Linked DNA regions of Homo sapiens. The protein of the gene in region 1 interacts with the protein of each later gene in a pairwise test. Each region holds a gene or a part of one and is shown in the gene's direction. Other genes may lie near its edges.

Region 1 (3,813 bases):
CTGATGAGGAATATGGATTCTGGTCCTCAGACGAGAAGGAGCAGTTCCGAATTTACAGGTGATGGTAGCAGGCCAACTCCTCTAAAATGGAGTCCAGAAATAATGAAGGCAATGAGGGAAGGGGCCCAAGTCCAGGCTTTCTGAATTTTGGTGCTCCTTTCTGTTTTCTAGGTATTGTTGCAGAGTTGTGGGGGTACTGGGGTAGGCTCCTGGGCTTGGGGGCAGGATCCAGGGTCAGGATCCAGGCAGTATAAAAGGCCTTCATCTGCTTCTCAGGGTGGACATCTCAGACACGCTCATGTATGTCTATGAGATGTTGGGGGCCGAGCTGCTCAGCAACCTCTATGACAAGCTGGGTCGTTTGCTCACCAGCTCAGAGGAGCCCTACTCCTGGCAGGTACCTCCCAAGCCTGATTCCCTCAGCCTTCCCAGACCTGTCACACCCTCCTCCTCATCCAAGCCAGTGGCACCCTCTTTCCCCAGCACACAGAGGCCCTCCTCTACGGCTTCCAATCCATCGCAGAGACCATTGACGTCAACTATTCTGATGTGGTGCCTGGGCTCATTGGCCTCATCCCACGGATCAGCATCAGCAACGTGCAGCTGGCAGACACTGTCATGTTCACCATTGGTGAGACCTGGCACACACCCATGACCATATTCCCAGAGCCACAGCACCCAACCCTGGCCACAGCCAGCATGCTGGATCCTATCCAGAATGGGAGAGCCACATGCCTACACACAATCAGTGTTGTAACAAACTGACTGTCCTGGCAGGTCTAGGGGGTCCATCTGATGGCACACTGAGCTGCAATTCAGTGAGGCTAGTTTACCGTCAGTGAAACAGCAGTACTGGGCCTCTGTTGAGTAACCCCTTCCTGCTTCTCAGCTGTAAGGCTCATGTTTGAGCATGCACATGCATATGTCCTCTGAATGGGGCAGTACTCTGTGCTGGGGCTGCAACTTGACCCTGCCAGGAACTCTGCTTGCCTCAGAGACATGGTACAAAGCCAGCCTGGCCTGCCTCAAAGATCCTCCTGTCTCCCTCCTTCCTCCAGGAGCTCTGTCTGAATGGCTGGCTGACCACCCCGTCATGATCAACAGTGTTCTGCCCTTGGTACTGCATGCCCTAGGCAATCCTGAGCTGTCTGTCTCTTCTGTGTCCACCCTCAAGAAGATCTGCCGAGAGTGCAAGTATGACCTGCCTCCCTATGCTGCCAACATTGTGGCTGTGTCCCAGGTATGCAGGGGCCCTGGATGGTGCTGGGCCTCAGAGCACACTCTGCACTGTGCTGATACTACATTCCTTCTTTCTCCCCTCAGGATGTGCTGATGAAACAGATCCACAAGGTGCGGCTCAAAAGTTTCTAGGGGTCTCCTTGGAGGTCTTGTGGGAATCACTTATCCCTGAAATCCTGTTTTTTGGCCTTCCCCTTCCTCTTATCCCTTATTCTCTGTTTTTCTTCTCCCAAGAGGCTCATTTTCCTTCCTACCCCACAACTAGATGTGGCCAGGACTGACCATCCATGTTCTGCCCCACAGACAAGCCAGTGCATGTGGCTGATGCAGGCGCTGGGCTTCCTGCTGTCAGCTCTTCAAGTGGAGGAGATCCTTAAGAACCTGCACTCGCTTATCTCACCCTATATCCAGCAACTGGAGAAGCTGGCAGAGGAGATAGTGAGTGAGCTCTGGGGGCCAGGGAGCGGTACTGAGATGCTGTGGCTGATGAGGGGTGAGGTTGGAGCTGGCCCTCAGAGCTGAGGCTCAGTGATCTGGGGACCAAACTGGGGCTGGGAGATCTGGAGCTTGGTTTGCTTCTCCCTGCAGCCCAATCCCTCCAACAAGCTGGCCATTGTTCACATCTTGGGGCTTCTCTCCAACCTCTTCACCACACTGGACATCAGTCATCATGAGGATGATCATGAAGGCCCTGAGCTTCGGAAGCTGCCAGTGCCACAGGGACCCAACCCCGTGGGTGACATTTGCCCACGGCAAAGACATTTGTCTTTGCCATCCCCCCAACCCCCACCTGTGGGAATGTCATTGTCACTCTTCAATTCTGTGGGTAATGTTGTCATTGTTCTCCCTGCCCCGTGGGCGTGATATATTTGGTCCTCTGACTCCATGAATGACCTATAATTGCCTCACTCTGTAGGCAGCAATGTCATTATCTCACTCAGCTCTGTGTGTGATGTTGTCCTTGTCCCCAGCCCAATTAGGGTGATGTCATTGAGATTCCTCAGCCCCATGAGGGACATTGACGTTATATCCTTCAACCCTTAAGTGATTTTATGGGCCCCTGTTCAACCCCTAGCTCTGTAGGGCCTTCTACTTCAACATTTACTGTCCCCTGTGGGCACTAAGGATGCTCATTACCTCCTCCGCATGTAATAGTTCTGGCCTTCAAGTTGCTCCCAGTGTAGAGGAAATTCAGGTTGCTCAAATTGTCACAAAGCAGTGTGATAAGTCCTGTGGTAAGCTTGGGCATAGGTTTTGGGGTGACCACTTACAAGCTGCTTGATCTGGGGCAAGCCTCAGCTTCCCATTAAAAACTATGAACATTGAAATGTCTGGCTTACTCAATTCATAGAACTGTGCTGGATAGTAGATGTGGTCTTAAGTGAAGGTAGTTTGCATATTGTAAAGTTCTTTACAAATATAAGGGACTGCTTTAGTCGTTGTTCCCAGAACTCCCTCCCAGATTTCTCCAGGAGAAAAGGAAGCCATAGGCATCCTGGCCTCTCTGCTTAACTCCCCAACCCAGTTTCAGTTAGCCTCTTGGCTTTAGACCACCCCTGGGCCACTGTCATCCCACAGAGCTGCTTCTTTACATGGTAGTCATCATCCTGCCTTTCCTCACCTCCCAGGACCTCAGTCTGCTCTCTGCTCCTCCATAAGCTGGGAGAGCAGCTTAAGCCTGCATCTGTGCATTCCTTGGGGCTCCCTACCTCAAGCCTATTTGGAGGAGATAGCATCTCCACTTCTTCAGAGGCTAGCCCATAGCCTTGGTTTTACAGAGCAGAGATAGGGAGAGATTTTTTTTTAAGTTTACAAAGTTTTTGTAACCTTATGAAGCACTTGTGATATCTCTGCTTTGCAGTTTGAGGCTTCCTTTGAGATGATCCCTAGAATTCAGGAAATACTCCTTTTTCATTCATGAGAGAGTTCAGCAAACCACTTCTTCCCCCAGGGGTCCCATGCCCTGGGTCCTCAATGTGTGTTCTGGGGTAATAGGTCTGAACTGCTCCCCTCCTCCCTGCCACCAAGTCCTCCTCAAGTGGGTCACAGTGATGGATAGCAGAAGCGCCTCACTTCTTCCTGTGCCTTCAGGTGGTGGTGGTGCTGCAGCAGGTCTTCCAGCTTATCCAGAAGGTGCTGAGCAAATGGTTGAATGATGCCCAGGTTGTGGAGGTGAGCCCTGACCCTTGCCCTCCGCTCCCATAGTGACTGCTCAGAGGTGTAGCAGGGTAAGATGTTACTGCCACACTTCAGCTTACAATGGTTTGGAGAAAACAAGGGAGGTGAATCCTGCCCCATAGAGATAAGGAATCTTTTGGGAAGACATTTAGAACTCCCCAATATCATGAGAAGTGCTTAACGTAAGGACTCTAATATTAGGGTCGAGTGACAGTCAGGCATCTGTTTTAGCACCAAAGACCTGCCTTTGGTCCCTTTTCAATTCAGGTTTTTGTTGCTGTTGCTGCTCCCTGAGAGGAAATGTTAGAGATGTAAGTCGCAGGAGTTAAGTTCCACAGTTACATCCTGTGCCCCTCAGTGAAGGGCCTTTGCCCCCTGCCTTTCAGGGTGAGGGTC
Region 2 (3,813 bases), on another chromosome or scaffold:
AATCACTTTACAGTCAAAATCAAGCGCTGATAAAGCACAATAAATTCCATATGGCTCATTTAATACACAACAGCTTCTTGCATTAGAGGGCTAATGATGAGGCCTGTCCCCTCCTTTCTGTTGACACATTTCTCCATTGTCAAACAGAGATGTGACAGCAACTCCGTATTTTCAGCTCAGGGGAACAAGTCGTGGGAAAGTTAAATAACTTTTAAAAAGAAAGAGAGCGCCCCCTCCCTTTCTCCTCTCCCCCTATTCACTGGAGAAGATGTAATTAAGTGAATATGAATTATTAGAGTCCTTTCGTTTACCTTTGGGGGGCCTCAGAGGTATTAATTCAATAATGAGGAATTGCAGGGGGACATCTTGATAATTGCAGTTGAGCCGGGAGAGACGATCTGTCTGTAAAAAGGTTTCCACGTTCTTTGAGGGCATTCTGAGTCCACTGCCCCCAGTTCCCCTTCTTCTTTCACTGCGATCAAGGAGTGGCGGATATTCTTGTCTAGACAGATTTGGCTACACAAAAGCTGCCCACCCAGTCCGGTCCCATCTACAGTCTTACTTTTTCAAGCCTCTGGGTTTCCACACTGAAGTGTTTCTGAAATTCACAAATAGATTATTTTGAAGGCTGTGGAATGGTGTGAATGGGCCCCCTTTTGGCCGACTTGGAAGTAATTGACCGATTTGGATTCTTGATTTTTCTTGCCCTGGGGGGCTGTCTAGAAGTCAAACCAAGCTTAGATGCTAGTGCTGGTAACAACAAGCCCCAGTGTGTAGATTTGAAAAATATGGATGTGTTTCACATTTTAAAATATATTCCTCTGGGATAATTTACATTATATTTTAATATAACTCTGTATAGCCCTGGAGTTCATTCTTAATTTTCAGACTTGTGTGCAGTTATAAACCCAGCCCTAAAAATATTAATGCCTTCAGGGGAGAAGGAGCATATCTTCCCAGCTGTGGGTGTGATGAGCAGGTCACATAAAAATAATTTCATGCTCCTGGGGTTTATTTTTAGATGATGGTAGCTGCCATGTTTCAGGTAAAGGTCTCCATTAAAACCGCTTTCTATTAGCAATTAGGAAAATACCTCAGGCTGAAAACCTCCCTCCAAGCCTAAAACTATCTTATTTAAATAGCCGATTTAAAACACATCTCCAAAAGGAAATAAAAGACTTGTTAGCTCTGAAGATGTGAAAAGTCTACACCTATCATGCCCTCTGATTTCTATGCGCCCAGGTATTGCTGCCTGCTTCATCCATGTAGTCAGTGCCTTCCTGCATAGAACTGGGTCCTGCAGGGATCCCCTGCCAAGAGCAGGTTGTGTATCCCTGTTTCATTTCATAGAGGATTGACCCCCTGAAATGTATGCTTGCTAATTAACTCGAGCCTTTCTTCCCTCCCTCTCATCCCTCTCTGAACCCCAGAACCCAGCATAGTGCTCTTTGGTGTTCAATAAATGTTTCTGGAAAGAATAAATGAACTATCTTTCCACTTTCCTCTTCCATACAGAGCAAGAATTTTGCCAGCTCTTGCGTAAATCTGAAATAGGTGAAAATAGCTGATATGCAGTAAAACAAGCATGTCCCTCATCTCTTGGTGGCTGCCCATTCCCTAGAGTCACCATTGAATGCATGCTTTCACTTGCCTTATTTTACCCAGTTCTCATAACAGCCTTATGAGTGAAGTTTTATTATCCCCATTTTACAGATTCGAAAACTGAGGTTCAGAGAGGTTTAAGTGACCTGCCTAAAGATCCTAGCAAGCGTCAGCACAGACGTTTAAACTTTGGTTTCCCCAACTCTAAACACACTGAATCACTTTCCTTAAACTTGGAAAACTGGCCCAGGTGGAATGCCGGCAGAAAGGGTTTGCTTGTCCTGTTTCCTGCTGACTTGAAGTTGCGGCTCCTATTCACTGCTCATTTGGCCCCAGACGCGTCCGAAAACAACCTGAGGCCAAAGAGGGGCAGGTGGGCGCGGGCCGCGGTGGAAAGGAAGGGGGCCCCGCAGCGCGCCAAGGGAAGGGACGGGTAGGGGCCCGGTGCGCCCGCCGGGCCGAGCCGCGCCGACCCTGGGCTCTCTCTGCCTTGCAGGTCTGGTTCCAGAACCGTCGGGCCAAGTGGCGCAAGCGGGAGAAGGCAGGCGCGCAGACCCACCCCCCTGGGCTGCCCTTCCCGGGGCCGCTCTCCGCCACCCACCCGCTCAGCCCCTACCTGGACGCCAGCCCCTTCCCTCCGCACCACCCGGCGCTCGACTCCGCTTGGACTGCCGCTGCCGCCGCCGCCGCCGCCGCCTTCCCGAGCCTACCTCCGCCTCCGGGCTCGGCCAGCCTGCCGCCCAGCGGGGCGCCGCTGGGCCTGAGCACTTTCCTCGGAGCGGCAGTGTTCCGACACCCAGCTTTCATCAGCCCGGCATTCGGCAGGTAACGCGCAGCCTCGGAAGTCTGTCTGTCTGTCTGTCTCTCATACACACAGAGGCTGGGGGCAGGGAGGAGGCAGGAGTCAAACAGGGTTACACACATCTTTTTCTTTGACCCAACCTCAGAGACTGTAGCCAAAGAAAATACTCTCTAATTGAGCCTCAAAAAAAAAAATGTGGGTCTTGAAGGTATTGACTTGGAACTTAATGGGAAAGGGGAAGGCAGTGGCAGTAACGACAACCGTGACAACCGAGAATGAAAGCTGTAAAAGTACCATTTGCAGGCTGCAACAAGTCCCACCATAGGTGGTAAGCGAGCAAATATGTACAGGTGTAGGGTACAGAGCAGGGACGACTTTTTAAGTTTTGCAAAAGTTCTTCCTTATGCCCCCCAACCTGGCAGCCTGAGGAACACAGCCCTGATCCCCATGGGAGCCCTGGAGCCACCAGGCCCTCTGGGTGCACAGAATTCTTTCTTCTGCCCCAGACTCCATCTTCCTTGTCACTCAAGTGACCCGCTGCCAACGACACCCCCATATGTGCAAGCCCCGATCTACACGGCAGTACAAGACAACGAAATAAAAGAAACAGTTCATCTTATAACTCCCTTTCTTTAATGAACATCGAATGAGGAAATAAAAAGTCTGTATAATCACACAGACAAAGAAACAAAGGAGGGATGTATTGTGTTAGCGCAGTGAAAATAAAACTGGATGCAGCTTCAATGATCACTCTTTGGGAGAACAAAGAAATAATAGATTCATCCAACTGCGCAGCTGCTTAACAAAAAATCATCTTACAGAAAATTAAGACTCGGAGTAAATTTAGTTTCTTATAACAAACCAATAAAATAAACAGCGAGCGCACTGAAGCAGAGTTAGTGACTCAGTTTACCTAATGGAACCAGGGCATGTTACGCCACCTCCGGGTCACACTTTATCATTTCTTTCTGAGAAAAATCTTAAAGTTCTGTCTCTCCCCTCCCTCCACTTTTTCCCTCTGACAAGTGACTTGTAAACCCAGGCGAACCGTGGCTGGAGGACCGAGTTGCGAGATTCGGAGAGGCTGGAAGAGGGTCTGGGCTGGGGTGGTGCGAGGAGTGAGCAGTGGGCTTGGGAGAAGGAGGCGGCGCTCGGTGAGCCCAGGTGGGCTCATTTCTAACCCTGGAAATCCGGAATTGGCCCCGCGGGCCTGGAGCCAGACCCCTCAGGGAGGCGGTCGGGAAAGCTCGCGGGCGCTCCAAGGCGGTGGGCGTGGGGGTGGTGTCCGGTGGCCCCGGGCGGCTCCGGCCACAGCTAATGTCCCGGTGCTGTGTGCATGGGGTGGAAGCGTCACGTGGAGTAATTCGGTCGCCGCTTGGAGGCGGTGGCGCTGGCGTGGGTCCCAGGCT

The links.
Region 2: the proteins of IPO13 (region 1) and ARX interact in a two-hybrid assay, tested with the Homo sapiens proteins (one large-scale study listed by BioGRID and IntAct).

Annotation. Positions count from the first base shown.
Region 1 is NC_000001.11:43,956,919-43,960,731, forward strand, and holds part of IPO13 (importin-13), read left to right. Parts: coding exon 1-58; intron 59-276; coding exon 277-397; intron 398-483; coding exon 484-631; intron 632-1,058; coding exon 1,059-1,240; intron 1,241-1,323; coding exon 1,324-1,350; intron 1,351-1,542; coding exon 1,543-1,677; intron 1,678-1,827; coding exon 1,828-1,971; intron 1,972-3,330; coding exon 3,331-3,411; intron 3,412-3,813. UniProt on the Homo sapiens protein: Functions in nuclear protein import as nuclear transport receptor. Serves as receptor for nuclear localization signals (NLS) in cargo substrates.
Region 2 is NC_000023.11:25,005,725-25,009,537, reverse strand, and holds part of ARX (homeobox protein ARX), read left to right. Parts: intron 1-2,098; coding exon 2,099-2,427; intron 2,428-3,813. UniProt on the Homo sapiens protein: Transcription factor. Binds to specific sequence motif 5'-TAATTA-3' in regulatory elements of target genes, such as histone demethylase KDM5C. Positively modulates transcription of KDM5C.